Linked DNA regions of Homo sapiens: region 1 is linked to region 2. Evidence: fine-mapped expression QTL. Tissue or cell type: whole blood. Region 2 holds a variant in brackets; the other region holds the start of a gene. All regions are shown on one strand. Distances are from middle to middle.

Evidence for each region. PIP is the estimated chance that this variant, and not a neighbour inherited with it, causes the effect.
Region 1: it holds the start of CLYBL, and the variant in region 2 is fine-mapped to the expression of CLYBL in whole blood (INTERVAL, PIP above 0.99).

What each region holds. Positions count from the first base shown.
Region 1 is chr13:99,602,636-99,610,739 of GRCh38, reverse strand. CLYBL (citramalyl-CoA lyase) reads right to left here and starts at 4,050. Exons shown (of 9, transcript NM_206808.5): 1 at 3,983-4,050. The coding sequence starts at 4,044. It overlaps LOC105370332 (a long non-coding RNA gene), which reads left to right and starts at 4,891. Exons shown (of 3, transcript XR_931674.3): 1 at 4,891-4,978; 2 at 7,389-7,494. RefSeq lists a silencer at 3,710-4,269 and enhancers at 3,991-4,285, 4,208-5,187.
Region 2 is chr13:99,858,722-99,866,819 of GRCh38, reverse strand. CLYBL (citramalyl-CoA lyase) reads right to left here. Exons shown (of 9, transcript NM_206808.5): 3 at 7,771-7,959; 4 at 3,728-3,829; 5 at 1,909-2,002; 6 at 413-580. The region is part of intron 1 of CLYBL-AS3 (CLYBL antisense RNA 3); the gene reads left to right. Among named protein-coding and RNA genes, the nearest start is that of CLYBL-AS3, 94 kb to the left of the region's middle. The variant A/TA (reference allele first, on the strand shown) is at 4,338.

The DNA of each region.
Region 1 (8,104 bases), 260 kb after region 2:
CATGTGCAGGGCTGTATACCGGCTAAGGAAAGACCTTAAGTGCTCATGTCTAGCTAACCTTCAGTCTCTGTGGAAGCAGGACAAACTGTGGCTGAATGTTGAAGACATGTCCTGACACACACAGAGTCCCTCAGCAAAGACTAGGAGACTTACTGGTTCCAGGAATTTAAGGAAACCTTTGTCTAATTGTTAGACTACTAAGCTAACCAAGCAGAGACCTCGCTGGTTGCACATGACAAAGAATACAATGCAGAATTAGTTTATTAAAGTCACTAAGCAAACAACAACAACAATAAACCCTGGCAAAAGGGAGAAATCTGATTTCCAGAGTTGCCCCATTATATTACTTAAAATGTCCAGTTTTCAAAAAAATATACAAGACATGCAACGAAAAGAAAGTATGACCTATACACACAGGAAAAAAGTAGTCAGTACAAACTGTCCCTGAGGAAGTCCAGATGTTGGACTTACTAATTAAATCATCTATTTAAAGTATGTTCAAAAAACGAAAGGAAACTATGCATAAAGAACTGAAGGAGTCCAGGTGCAGTCGTTCATGCCTAGAATTCCACTGCTTTGGAGGCCAAGGCAAGAAAATCATTTGAACCCAGCAGTTCAAGACCACCCTTGGCAACACTGCAAGACTCTGTCTCTTCAAAAAATTTAAAAATTAGCTGGGCATAGTGGTGTGTGCCTGTAGTCCCAGCTACTGGGGAGGCTGAGGCAGGAGGATCACTTGAGCCCAGGAGCTGCAGGCTGCAGTGAGCTACGATCTCACCACTGCACTCCAGCCTGGAGACTCCGTCTCTAAGAGAAAGAAAGAAAAAAAGAACTAAAGGAAAGTATGAGAACGATGTTTCAGTACATAGAGAATATCAATGAAGAGATAGAAAGTATAGAAAAGGGCCGGGCATGATGGCTCATGCCTGTAATCCCAATACTATGAGCGACAGAGGCAGGCAGATTGCTTGAGCCAAGTTCGAGACCAGCCTGAGCAACATGGCGAAACCTGATTTCTACAAAAGAATAGAAACAATTAGCCAGGTGCAGTGGTGCACACCTGTAGTCCCAGCTATTTGGGAGGCTGAGGTGGGAGGACAGCTTGAGCCCAGGAGGCAGAGGTTGTAGTGAGCCCAGATTGCACCACTGCACTCCAGCCTGGGTGACAGAGTGAGACTCATTCTCCAAAAAGAAAGAAGTTCTGGATTAAAATGAAAATGATTTGAGTTGGAAGACGGAGCAATCAGCAAACCTAAAAACAGGTCGGCTGGGCACGGTGGCTCACACCTGTAATCCCAGCACTTTGGGAGGCCAAGGCAGGTGGATCACGAGGTCAGAAGATCGAGACCATCCTGGCCAACATGGTGAAACCCCGTCTCTACTAAAAATACAAAAATTAGCTGGACGTGGTGGCGCGTGCCTGTAATCCCAACTACTCGGGAAGCTGGAGCAGGAGAATCGCTTGAACCCGGGAGTCAGAGGTTGCAGTGGGCAGAAATTGCGCCACTGAACTCCAGCCTGGTGACAGAGCAAGACTCTGTCTCAAAAAAAAAAAAAAAAAAAAAAAAAACAAAGACAGGTCAATTGACATTGTCCAGCCTGAGGAACAGAAAGAAAATGGAACAGTCTCAAAGACCTGTGGGGTTCCATCAACTACACCAACATATACGCAATGGGAGCCTCCGAAAGAGAAGAGAGAGATAAGAGAGTAGACTTTTTTGAGAGAACAATAGCCAAAAACTTCCCAAATTTGATGTATACACATCCAAGAAACTCAATAAACTTCCAAGAGGATAAACTCAAACAGATCTACACACATCATAATAAAACCACCGAAAGACCAAGACAAAGAGAAAATCAAGCAAAAAAAAAAAAAAAAAAAAAAAAAAAAAGACTCATCACTTACATAGAACCCTAATAACATTAACGTCTGAATTCTCATTAGAATAATGGAGGCAAAAAGACAGTGCGATAATACGCTTTAAAATGCTCAAAGGAAAAAAAATGCCAATCAAGAATCCTATATTCAGCGGGTAGACATGTCGAGAACAGACCAGTGTGCTAAGGCGGGTGAGGAGCACTGAGTTAACCCCCAGCGTACTGGCGTGGGGACTGTGTGCGCTCACTGGACCCGCTACTGAACAGGTCACAGACGCTGGCCCCCTCAAAAGGCGCCAGAAAAGGACCCTTCTGGACCAGCCTGGATACACTGCCTGAGCTGCTCCTCTAGGGCGAGGGGTGACTCCCCTGTGCCAGGGGCAGCGGAGGAAATGGGAAAGTGGGATGCATAAGACTAGGTGGGTCCTCCCATAGGACATGGGTGACTGAAGAGTCACAGTGCAAGAAGACGTAAGAAGTTCAGACCCAGGCCGGGCACGGTGGCTCACGCCTTTAATCCCAACACTTTGGGAGGCCGAGGCAGGTGGATCACCCGAGGTCAGGAGCTCCAGACCAGCCTGGCCAACATGGTGAAACCTCGTCTCTATTAAAAATACAAAAATTAGCCGGGCATGGTGGCGGACGCCCTGTAATCCCAACTACTCCGGAGGCTGCGGCAGGAGAATCACTTGAATCCGGGAGGCGGAGGTTGCAGTCAGCTGAGATGGCGCCATTGCACTCCAGCCTGGGCGACAAAAGCGAAACTCCATCTCGGAAAAAAAAAAAAAAAAAAAAAAAAAGAAGTTCCAGACCACCAGGCCGGCCATGGTGGCTCACGCCTGTAATCCCAGCACTTTGGGAGGCTGATCCGGGTGGACCCCCTTGAGGTCAGGAGTTCGAGAACAGCCTGGCCAACATGGCGAAACTCTGTCTCTACTAAAAATACAAAAATTAGCCAGGGGTGGTGGTGCACACCTGTAATGCCAGCCACTCAGGAGGCTGAGGCATGAGAATCGCTTGAACCCAGGAGGTGGAGGTTGCAGTAAGCCGAGATTACACCACTGTACTACAGCCTAGGTGACAGACCGAGACTCTGTCTCAAAAAATAAAAATAAATAAATAAAGAAGTTCCAGACCAGGAGCCATACACTTAGTGTTTGAACCAAACTCTCTCATTACTGGTCATAGGGCTTTGAGAATCCTTAACCTTTCTGACCCTGTTTTTTCATCTTTATAAACATGACACCCAACTTCTTCACATGGTGGTCAAGGGAACCAAATGAGACCATGTATGTGCACGTACCTAGGCGATGGGCAAGTGCTAGACCAGCGGTTCTCAAAGTGTGGTCCAAAGACACCTGAGGGGGTCCCTGAGACCCGTTGAGAGGGTCTGCTTGGTCCTCCCTTTCCCAACTAATATCTGCATCTGCATGAGCCCAGAATTTCTTTCAAATATTTCCTTCAAAACAGCTGATATGAGACTCCAGCTGTCCTTTATTAAACCAAAGAAATTTTCAAAAATATAAAAACCATGAGCCAATCTTCTCACTTTTTTTTTGAGAAGTTATGCATTAAAGTGTTATTTGTATTAAAAGTTAATGGGTTTGTTATTAAGTGAATATTTTTTAAATTTCTGGTTTAATTCCTCATGCACAAAAATCAATAGATATAAGCAAAAGCTTTGGGGGGTCCTCAAATTATTTTTAGACGTGTAAACGGGTCCTGAGACCAAACCGTTTGGGAACCGCTGTGTTAAACGAACCGCAGGTGTTCTTCACCAGGCAAGCCGCCTCTCAAAGACTGGCGCGTTCACGTTTGCCATTTGGGGGAGGCAGGCAGTTTTGTTTCCTGGGGCTGAGTCCAGGTAATTCGACCTAAGGTGTGTACCCATTTTCCGGGTGCAACGAGGGCCCTCCCAAAGGGAGGCGCGGGCGGCAGCGACCTTGGACGAGGTCGAGCCAGCGCGTGGGAGGCGCATGGTGCTTCCGTCCGGCTGGGTTCCCGTGAGGGCTTGGGGAGGCCGCGCCCGGCCCGCGGGGCTGCAACAGGAGCCGACCCGCGGCGAGCCGGGCCGGGAAGGCGGGGAACGGGGACCTGCACTCACAGCCTCAGCAGCGCCGCCGCCGCAGCTCCGCGCGCCGCCCTCCGCAGCAGACGTAGCGCCATCTTCCCGACGCGCGCGCCCCGCCCTTTGCCTTTAGCCACGCCCACCCCACATTCCACGCCCCCACGGCGACACCGACCCCCCCCCCGTCCCAGGCCCCGCCTCGCTCTGTCTTCGCCCCGCCCCGTCCCGCCAGCCACACCCCGCCAGCCACGCCCTCCTTCCTCCCAGCACCCGCTCCGCCCCGCGGCGAGTCCCGAGGTCAACTGCCCTCCCGGCCAGGGCTTAGGACCTTCGTCCCCGCTGTCATGGGGGACAGAGCAGAGGATCTGAATGGTTGGGGCCTCTTTGAGGGGCCTCTCTGGTGACCGAATCCAACTCTCTGAGCTTCTGAGTTTTTGAGGCAACTGTTGACAGACTGCGTTTTCCCAGCCAGAAGAGCCAACATTTCTAGGGATTTCTTCGCAGCTTTTGTTGTTAAAATACCGCCTAATACTTTGTGAGCCCCATCATGTGCATATCTTGGTTAGCAATTAATCTAGAGTGGTCAAAGTGCAGGAAGGCTGCATCCTGGAACACACATGCCTGCAATAGGTCAGAGCAGCTGTTGGCACTCTCTGGGCAGGGAAACTGACAGCAGCTCTTTACTCTGCCCCCTGCAGCCGTTCTGCAGCGGTGAGAACGCCGAGGCGTTAAAACAGGCTGGGCCCTGCCCCTGCCTCTTCTTTCACCTTCCCTGATCCAGCCGGCCTCCACCTGCCGACCTTCACCTACCCGGGCCCATGTTACCCCTTAACCATGTCTTTTCCTTGGCACTCGGCATGTTTCTTTTTCAGCTGTGACTCCGTTCCATTCATGCTCTAGACTTAAACCTGAAACCGTTTCTCAGAACCTTCCAGTGGAAGCTGACTTGTGCTCTTGGATGCAAAAAGTGGCCGTTTAAACAAACAAAAGCCTTTTCAGCCAGAGGGGGTTCCAAGATTTGGAAAAGTCCAGGTGACTGGGAACATGGATGCTAAACTTCTGCTGAGCCTAAGAATTATTGTTATATTCGATACCAACAGGGGAGACTGCTCAACCCCTTGGTGCCCTCCCCCAGCTCCCACGCCTGCTCCACCTCAGGCCTCGCCTGTCTACTCCAATTTGGTCACTTTCTTGTCACCACCTTAGTCCCAGCCAGTGCCCGGTCCAGCCATACTGAAGCCTGAGGCAAAGGCAATTTCAGTAACACCAATCCTGTCTTTAATTAAAATTTTGATATTTTGTTCATAATGGGATTTTTCCATTATCTTGGTTTTTAGTTTAGAATATTACTTTTTTTTTTTTTTTGAGACAGTCTTGCTCTGTCGCCCAGGCTGTAGTGCAGTGGCACGATCTCAGCTCACACACTGTAACCTCCACCTCCTAGGCTTGAGTGATTCTCACCCCTCAGCCTCCTGAGTAGCTGGGACTACAGGCAAGTGCCACCACTTCCAACTAATTGTTTTGTATTTTTAGTAGAGATAGGGTTTCACCATGTTGGCTAGGCTGGTCTCGAACTCGTGGCCTCAAGTGATCCATCCGCGTCAGCCTCCCAAAGTGCTGGGCTTACAGGCATGAGCCACCATGCCAGGCCAATATTACTTATCTTTTTTTTTTTTTTTTTTTCTGAGATGGAGTCTCGCTCTGTCGCCCAGGCTGGAGTGCAGTAATTACTGAGACTTCTCCTTAAATTTTGCATCCCAGGCTGGGGCTGCACTCACCTCACTCAAGTCTGATTCTGGACATCATCATCCTTTACCTGGATTATTTCAAAGCCTCCTTGCTCCCATTCTTCCCTCCTACAATCACCCGTTTGCCATAAAACCTGGCTGACCTTTTAAAAGCATGACGCAGCTCCTAGTTCCAGAGTTGACTTGCTGTGTGACTTTGGTCAAGTTTCTTAAGCTCTCTGTTTCCTCATCTATAAAATGGGGGTATAAATACCTCATCACCTCATAGGCTTGTTATAATGATAGACTGAGTTTACATATACATAGAGAGAGACTGCACACTTAAAATCTAAGCAAGTTCTCAGTAGTGTTAACTATTCCTCATTATTATTGTCATTGCATCGCTTCCCTTCTTAAAACCCTTTAGTGGCTTTAGAATAAAATCCGAGTTCTTCCCCATGACCCTTAAAGCCTCACACGGTCTGGCCCCTGCCAGCCTCTCCAATTTATCTCCAGCCCCACTCATCTTCTGTCTGTGTTTTCTAAGTCCACGAGGCTCTCTCCCACCGTGGGGCCTTCACACATGCCGTTCCTCATCCCCAGAATGCTCATGGCTACACCTGCTCATCCTCCAGGACCTTCAGCCTACGTGCCACCTCCTCACAGGGGCCTGTGCTAATAACCTAAAGATCCCCAACGGCGCCCCCACATCTATTTCACTGTCACAGTGCCTGGTCATCTCCACCACAATGTCGATATATGAGTTTGTGAATTTATTAGGTTCATGCCAAAGTAATTGCGGTTTTTGCCATTCAAAGTAATGGCAAGAACAATTTCATCTTATATGTATTGAATACCTGCCAGGTAGGATTCACTGAGCCAGGTGCTGGGAGCACAGCAGTGACAAGACATACAAGGTCCCTGCTCTCAAAAAACTTACAGAATTGAAAATAATGGCAAAACCCACAATTACTTTTGCACCGACCTAATACTTCTTTATTGTGCCTTTCCCCAGCAGTTCTCAGAGGGTGGGGTGGGATGGGATGACTAACCATCTATCAGGTGGGCTTTGGGATGCAGTATTGTTGTTTAGGGGGCAGGGCTAGTGATGTGCTGGGTAGCCACCTTGGGAGAAAGGCTCTTGGTGTCTTGACTTAGAAACACCTTCTGTAGGATGAGAGCATAACTTCTTTGAGAGCAGGGACCTTATATGTCTTGTCGCTGCTGTGCCCCCAGCACCTGGCTCAGTGATTTATACCCGGCAGGTATTCAATACATATAAGATGGTGGCTCACGCCTATAATCCCAGCACATTTGGAGGCCGAGGCGGGCGGATCACCTGAGGTCAGGAGTTCGAGACCAGCCTGGCCAACATGGTAAAGCCCTGTCTCTATTAAAAATACAAAAATTAGCCGGGTATGGTGGTGTGCGCCTGTAGTCCCAGCTACTCGGGAGGCTGAGACAGGAGAATTGCTTGAACCTGGGAGGTGGAGGTTGCAGTGAGCTGAGATCATGCCACTGCACTCCAGCCTGGGTGACAGAGCAAGACTCCATCTCAAACAAAACAAAACAAAACAAAATGTATATATGATGAAAATGTTCTACCAGCCTCATTACAGTTGAAAACTGCTGTATAACTAGTTATCCTTATTTAAAATGCCTTGGATCTAAAGTAGGTCCTACTATGTCTTATTTGCTAATTGGTTCAATTTCAGATTCTCCTAGAAGAAATTGTAGCTGTGCCCATTCTCACCAGCAATGGTAGGGGGTTGTTGAGTTTCTTCACAAGATTACTGACTCATGCATTTTGCTAATCAGTAGGTAGGTTAACAACTAACTGTTTCCTAATGCTAGTACATGTTAAAATAAAGTTTTATTAACTTTATCTACATAGTATGTGGGTGTCTGGAGGACACGTGTATTAGTCCGTTTTCACATTGCTATAAAGAACTGACCGAAGCTGGGTAATTTATAAAGGAAAGAGCTTTAATTGACTCACAGTTCAGCATAGCTGGGGAAGCCACAGGAAACTTATAATCATGACGGAACGTGAAGGGGAAACAAGGCACCTTCTTCTCAAGATGGCAGGAAGGAGAATGAACACAGAAGGAACTACCAAACTCACGAGTGAGTTCTCCAATCTCCGATCTCGAGAACAGCATGGGGGAAACTGCCCCCGTGACTCAGTGACCTCCACCTGGTCTCTCCCTTGACACGTGGGGATTTGGAGGATTTCAATTCAAGATGAGATTTTGGATGGGGACACAGCCAAACCATATCAACATATTTCCAAATATAATAGAGAAAGGGATTCAGAGTTCCTCCTTTAGGACAGTCAAGTCTATCTTTACTCACAGCTTCCAAAACTGAAAAGAAAAGTATCAATTTTCCAAGTGCATCAAGAGAGCATATGAAATTTAGTAGGGTGAAT
Region 2 (8,098 bases):
CCAACATTTTTTTTCAGAAATGAATTAAATTTTGGATATTCTAGGAGATTTTTCTTCTGTCCATCAACCAAAATTCTTATGGCGGTTCACTCAAAAACACTTTTTGAGCAGCCTCATCCCTCCCTACAGGTCAGCCAAGACTACAACAAAATGATTAAGAGGATGGAGAGAAAAAAAAAAAAGCAACTAATATAAAGAGGAAATAAAATGAGTGATTTGTTGACTTGCAGGGCCAAGGAAAACCATGACAATGTGTCTGGCAAGTTCTTCCCCTGTGTGACTTGCTCATATTTCAAATAGTGGAGTAAGTATGGGAGATATCTGATGAGATTAGGGGTGTTTTCGGGTCAAATTTCTATTTTTCTGGAATGCTTGCTAATTTAGACACTGCTTTCTAAGACAGGAATCATACCAGTGAAGCCCATGGCGGCTCCTTCTCGTGACTGTCTAAGCAGCCCAGCTCCATCTCGAAAGTCAATGTACACCAGATCTATGGCTTGGAGACCAAAGGCTTTCGCTATGACAACAATCTTTTGCCGGGCGTAGAGAATATCCAGGGTTTCTTTACTACTTGTTGCACCTGAAAATGGGATGTTAACAGAAAAAGGAGGCTTTAACTTTGGAAACCGCACCCAGATATTTATTATAAAACCTCAGTTTGTACAGATATCTAAACCTCCCTGGAAATTGCTCCTCCGCAAAATAAAATTATTGAAATACAAATGAAGACAGGGACGCGTGGAGGCCAAGTTAAACCTCGAATGTGTCTGTTTAACTGACAAGGCATCTTTCAATAGAATTACTTCTACCTGCATTAAGAGAAGGCCCCTTCCCCATTCTGGGAGGCTGGGTCAGGGTCGCAAGGGACTCCTGATATATTTTTTTCCTTCTTATCATCGCTTGAAAAGTGCCAGTCCAAAGACAGCACCACAAAGGGTGGCCCAGCAGCTATGCAGGGCAATGGTTCGTGTTTCACAGCAAGCACAGAACTGTGTGTGCTGCGATTGCCCTGTCCAAACTGAAGTTCTGAGCCAAATGCTTCAGCTTCAGGGTCTGTCTGGATGGAGAACTTGGGGAGACGGGAGGGCACTTGTTTTGAGAGGGCTGGAAAGCATCGATATGCCTTCTGTAGCCCGCTGAACCGTTGGATACACAAGTCTCCTGGAAAGACTCGTATTCAAATAAATTCAGTTTTTTCACCCTGAGGGGAGGGAAGTGTCCCTGTTTACATTTGGAACATGCCACTCCCTGCCTAGGGAAAGTGCCTGTCTTCAGGTCACTGGGGCTGGTTTCTGTGGCCTCGGCCTCTTTTCTAAATGCTTCACGGTCTCCAGTCAAACATGCAGACCCCTCAAGTGCAGCTCACAAGGGATGGTGAGAATCGGTGAAAATCAGCACATTTAATACTAAGAGTTCGAAACATATTGTAAGAGAAATTTAAGATCCATTTAAAATAATATTTACCTACCGCATATTCTGTAGAAAACAATTCATTAAGGCAAATGTGAAATTGCCTTAAATTTGCGTTAGAAATCTAGACAGCCCACAGACTGATATGAAAACAAAATACTGAAGCAACGGTGAGGCTGTTCACATAATATATTTATTAGGAGCAAAGGAGATGCCATATATTCCTGAGCATGCCTGGGGCTGCAACAGGCTTTCTATTGCTCGTGTCTTTTATAAATGAACAGAAGTAATAATGCAGTGCTCTAGAAGCAGGGCAGCTATGAGGAGCCCTAAATTATCAGGAAGTAGTGTCCATTCCATTGTCATGAAAAACCATTGTCATGGTTGGCAAATATACATTGTTATGTAAATGTCCATCCTTGAGGGGCAAAGAAAAAATATATACACACATATACACACACACACACAGAAAAAGAGAGAGAGAGATGTCTTTGACACCTATGCTGGCTCGAAAGTCTTCTCCTCCAAAAACGACTGCATCTAGAAAGAGACCTACTTGAGGCCCGACCTTCAGGGTTTCTTCACACACTGCCTGTAAAAGAGCAGAACAGAACTAAGTCTCACGGAAACGCGTGCGTCAGAGGGAAGAGGCACGGTGCATTTCAGTAACAGGACGACCTGACTCTTAACACAGTTTGGCTGAAAGCAGTCCTAAAAACGCAGCCCAAATTTACCCCTTTCAAAAGGTATTTAATATCATCCAAGATAAGTATATTGTATATATTTGCTTTGTTTAATGGATTATATGAATATAGTTATAATGTTCAAATTGTAGTTCATCTCATTTTTGGAGAAACTTTGAGTTAACTCATTTTGCTTGCACTATAAGTTATTTATATCTTTCCAGAATTCGTTTTTGCTTTAAGAGACTCTCGTAAAACCACAGGGGAGAAGGAAGGAATTTTAAAATCAAACTAATTGAATTATTTGCATTAGGATCAAGCACATGGTCTCAGGATTAAAGACAGCACAAAAACCTGCAACTCCGGAGGGGAAAATAAAAATGCAACAAGTCATCCAAGATGTGTTCATAAAGCAACTTCGACATTTATATATGAAAGTCAAGGCAAATACCATTCGTCGTAGACATAACCGTGAATCTTGAAAGGTGGAGATATAACCTGCTAATAATATACGTGGGTGGGAAAGAAACGAGGAACCGGTGGGGACACTGTTGATTAATTTCAGACATTGTAAGTGCTTCTAAGTACATTATGGAATAAAATGGCGAAGCAGTGCTTAAAATTAAATCACTGGATGAATCTGGTTGCATCTTAGGGATATGCTTTTGATTATATTCTCAGGATTCTGGGGCTGGCTGGAAGAATGTATGGTTAGTTGTGTAAACAAGCTGCTCACAGGACAAGGTTTGAAGCAGGTCCCCAAACATTTGCACTCGACCCCTTCTGCACATCCCAAGGCCTCAAAGTTGCCGCTCACACATTCTCTCTCCAGTACAGTTCGACTATGTTTTTTCTGTTGTTTTTAGTGATTTCTTTTCTCCTGCCCTCTGTGGGGGCTGGGGTGGGGGAAGGGAATCTAGGAACTCTGAAAGGGGGTGCTAGATTGATGTTCGCAGGTCAGGTGGAATGAGAGGCATATTTTGGAAAATAATATAAATGCCCCCTGATAAACGAGAAAAAACGAGCTAGCTCTGAATTTGTTAAGACCGGTAGTTTAGTGCAACCACACAACGGCTGAAAACACTTGGCTCAGCCAATATTCCCGCATGTATATTAGAAGATATTCTAATGTGGCAAACTGAAAAACTGTACTGCAAATTATTTGTGTGCATGAACTTACAAACAATAATCTTCTCTGCTAGACATTACTGATAATGTTGCTACAGAGAGGGCAGAACATTTCCCACTGAAAAGACATTTGATAGAAAAGAACATTTCAAAGTTAATTCATAAGGGTGACAAATTTTCATGTACATTTAGTCTATAAATGCAATAATTCAAAGCATATAATTACACAGTGATTAGTTAAAATTGTTACTAGGAATATACAAATGCTTCATTTAAATATTTTGGACTGGGAAGCTTTTCCTTCTACCTAACTGATTTCATTGTTTTCTAAGATGCTGGCAACCTGGTTTTTGGACTATTACAGATAACAAATGGTGCTCAACATTTCCTTTGCTTATAAATCTTTCTAGAAACACATTTTAAGAAGATGTTAAAATTGAAAGCAAAAGTTCTCTTTAGGTGATAAATAAAATGCTAACTTATTAACCGTATTATGGCTTCCTTACCTTAAAATTGAGCAAACCCATTGCAGTTTCCACAAAAGGGATTAAATTCATTGGTTGTTCAAGTTTTCGGCCTTTTAAGTGGAATGAAAATTTGTCTGCAAACTAAAATCAGAAGTGTCATAGGTGATTAGTGGGGAAAAAATGTACAATCACGGAAATGTAGACCCAGAAGTAGTATTTAAGTCTTTGACCTGAGGAAGTAATATCCAAGCCTCTTTCGTCCACACAAAAGAATTTTTTTAAAAAAATAAGAAGAAAGTCCAAAGAAAAAGGTAATGAAGTTCCCACCAAACTAAATAGTAAAATCCTAAGCATTACAATTTTTTTCTCCCAAAGGAGCAACTTGAGGCCTAGGAGTTAGAACTGGAAGGAGAGAGTATAAACGCTTTCCCTGAAAACGCATTTACTTAAGACCTCTTGCCCTCGCTTCGTTAAATGCAAATGGTAGGCCCTTAAAACAATGAACTCTTCCTCTACCTGCCATTCTGTTTTTGTTTCGTGCCCAGCACTGACATCAGTGCAACTGTTCAGCAGCCTTCTACGTGGAGTCCATATTATTCATTATAGCACCATTACCCTTTGTTCAGAAGGTTTTTCTTCATAATTTTTT[A/TA]GCTTACCTAGGAAGACCTTAAAAAGGAAGTTTAATTCTTTGAAGACCAAAGCTCGCCAATTTTTTCCATGAGACCAGTTCACAGCTAGCTCTGTGCTGCCAGTGGGGTAGCCCAAATTCCAAAATCTATCATCTGGAAACATACAAAAGCTCTTGCCCAGATTCCTCCCCCTCTTCAAAAGGGGGAAAAAAACACACTCTAAATTGTAAATCTATTATGTCTATCTAGATCTAATAAGATGTGGGGAGATAGATAGAGAAGAAACACAGGTATGATAAAGGTATTTTTGTAAATAAAGATGAAAACATATATATCCATTTTAAATTTAAGGAATATTCAGCCATTAATAGATATCAAAGGAAAAGGGAATTTTAATCATCTCTCCATTCAGTCTCAGTTGGGTAAATCATATCTAAGAGATTTGCATAAATATAAACCATCAAAGACTTTTCATCTTCAAAGGGGGTTTCAAGACCCTATAAGCTTTGTACTGTAATCATCACAGGTCACCACCCTGCAGGAATAAGGCTGCTATGGCAACATAAAAAAACTAATGCTTAAGGCTTAGCATAATATTCTGACTAATAGAAAGGAAACTCATTTGAAAAGCTGGCAGCCTATTTACCAGAAGCGGGATTAGAGGTGTTATTTCCCCTTCTAGCTGCCCCCTCCTTGCCGGTGCACCACCCCCCTAAAAAATCTAATCACTGGGATCTTTAAAAAGCTTTTGAGCAATTTGCAGTAACTTTACAATTAGGCTAAAATAAATCACAGCTTTCAGTAATGAAGAATTATTCCCAGTTGCTCCCACTGCCCCCCCTTCAAAGGGCATCATCATCACCTCCTTAGTAACTTTTCAAGGGAAGGAATAACTCAACCAAAATAGCAAGAAGGAGCAGGGGGTGACAATTTAAGGGGATAAAATGTATAGTATTTGATGTAGATGAAAATAAAATATAATTTATTTCTCATTTATGCTAGAAAGTGGTAGCACAGTATTAGTGGTTTTGGTGTTAAAAATGTAGTAGGGATATTTTTTCTCATTAAAAAAGAAAACTTGTGAAGTGACTTGCCCCATTCTTTGTGATGACAGTTATAACTACAAAAATCATGGACTTTAAAACCAAGTCAACACTTTACAATATATTCCCTGTTCTTAGTGAGAACACCCCAATGCCTTTTGTTTTTAAGCCAATAGGGGCATTTAAAAATTAAATATTCTAGCCCATCCTCCTCCTCCTCCTCCTCCCCCTCTTTCTTAAAAAATTGCACTAAGTACTAACACAAAAGGTAACTAGTGGAGAAGTTTCAATTAATTTTTTCAAAAGGAGACGATTAAATGTTTCCGGCCTGGTAAAGTGTTCATTTCAGCGAGGTGGAGGGGACTGGGGTAGGGGGAGGAGAAGAAGGGGGAGAAATCACAAAGAGATTGGGGAGGAGATGAAGTAGCAGGGCTCAGCGATTCTTTCAATTCCAGTGCACACCCAATAGTGTGTTGGAAGAATGCACACTGTTCGGGATTTGTGGGAGAATTGTCCCATGACAAAGGAGGCAGGGTTACGCTTGTTATAGTCCAATAAGCCGTGCCAGTCAAACAAGAACCCACACTAGCGACAAAAGGCGAGCAAGAGATTCTCACACAAAAGAAAACAAGTAAGCCCATCTTTCAGTTGTGCATCAGGCTCTGGGTTTTATGCTTCGCATAAATACAAACGGAGAGGAAAAAATAAACAGCCAAAAGGACTTCTGTTAACTAGAAGTTCTATTTAAATTTCTGTATGTGTCTCACTTCCAAGGATTTAAAACAGTGAACAGAAGCCATAGCGGAAGGCTGGCTGGGTCTCCCCCTCCCCCATCTTAAGTTAAAGGTAATAACGGTGATAAATAGGCATTAACTATGAAACCAAAAGGGAACAGTGACTTCAGAGTCCATTTCAATCAACTTAAGACATATCTGAATGGGCTCAGGACCCTCCAGGATATTAACATACTCTTAACTAGTATCTCCCAGCTTCTGAGGGTAACCCTGGAGAGAAGAACTCCAGCTTAGTCAATAAATAACTGGTCCTTGAATACGGGTCTTCAAGAAGGATCCAACACAGAGCTGTCCAAAAGAAACTGTATAGCAGCAGCTACATATAATAATTTTAAATTATCTCGTAGCTACATTGAGGGTAAACTGAAACAGGTGAATTTAATTTTAATAGTATCTTGTATTTAGCCCAATAGATCCCAAATATTATTTCAATGTGTAATCAATATAAAAATTATCGAGATAGTTTACATTCTCTTTTTGTCCCCTCAGTGAGTCCCGAGTCTTCAAAATCGAGTGTGTATTTTGCACTTCCAGCACATCTCCATTTGTGCTGGCCACGTTTCAATGCTCAGAAGCCACATGTCATAGTGGCCGTGGCACTGGGCAACGCAGACCTCACACATCGGGTGCATTCAGCAGGTGAGCAGTTTCGTAGGTGTTACAACAACTCAGGGTATTGCTGTGGTGGCAGCCACAGCCTCAGAGATAATACTAGATGTGGCTTCCATGAAACCACCACTGCCCACTCGCCCCGACCACAAACGCTTCCAGTTTTCACACCTCACAGGGCCCAGAATGACACATTTTCTGTCCCAGAACAACACAGTGAAATGTTATTTTATTCAGTAGAGATCTGCAGAATAATAGCGACCCTCAAATAAAATCTAGCCCCTCCACCCTTTGTCAATTAAAACAATCATAGTGTAATTAGGCCTATTTCAAAAGTTTTCTTAAGTAATTTGACATGCCAACCACTTTACATTTCAGGTTTTTATTGGCTGAAAAGTCTGTCATGAAACACAAACACACCTGTCAGCAATTTAAAAAGGATGCACTAGAGAACTGTTCAGGAAATAATATCAGTGCTAATTGAAACCACTAGTTAAAAGCTTCCTGTTCATTCCTCCAGTTGCCCTAAAGAGTGACCTTTTCCTCCCCTTCTTTGGGTTCATTTTTTCATATGCGGCAAATGTGCCCTCCCTGCCTGGGATGATTTCAGATGAATCTCAGTAAGGGCCATTTACGTCACTGCTCTTCCAGGTGGAGGCCTTGGCTTAGGGCCGGGCAGGGTGGAGGAAGGGATGAGATTCTCGGGCAACCTAGTTTCCAGGGATTACTCTGGGAGGGCTACTGAGGAGGCTGTTCTGGCCAAACCACACATCCAATTAGGAAGCGAAGCATCATTTCAAAAGTGCAGTTGTTTCATAGAACACTTTGGGCAAAGGCGAGTTTTCCTTGTGTAAAAGAAACGGATACTTGAGCTTACTGCTTTTTCTCAATTCCCTTCCTCTCTGCTCTCTGCATGCATTTTCCAAACCTGTGGCACCCAGATCCCTTCTTCCTGCTACTCCTCCTTAGCTGCTCCTGAGTCTTAAGGCAAAGCATTAGCTACTCACCCACTGGATTTCTTCAGGACTTTCCACCTTTGGTAGCATCAGGCTGGAAGGAAGGACCCGGGATTGCAAAAGGGTCTCTAGGTCTTCTTCCGCCAGACCACTGGAAACTGAGTTGACTCTCACACATTTTTCAGTAGGGCCCAGATCAATGTCTTCAAGAGTTTTTACAATTCTCAGTCGAGCTTCATTCTGTAAGTGTCAATAAAAAGTTTATTGTTTATTTTTATCATTGAGGGGAGCACCATCAAATGGTTGATGAAACTGTTATGTGGATTCAGAGTCTGAGCACCATTATTCTATCTACACATTTCCTGTCCACCAAATAAAT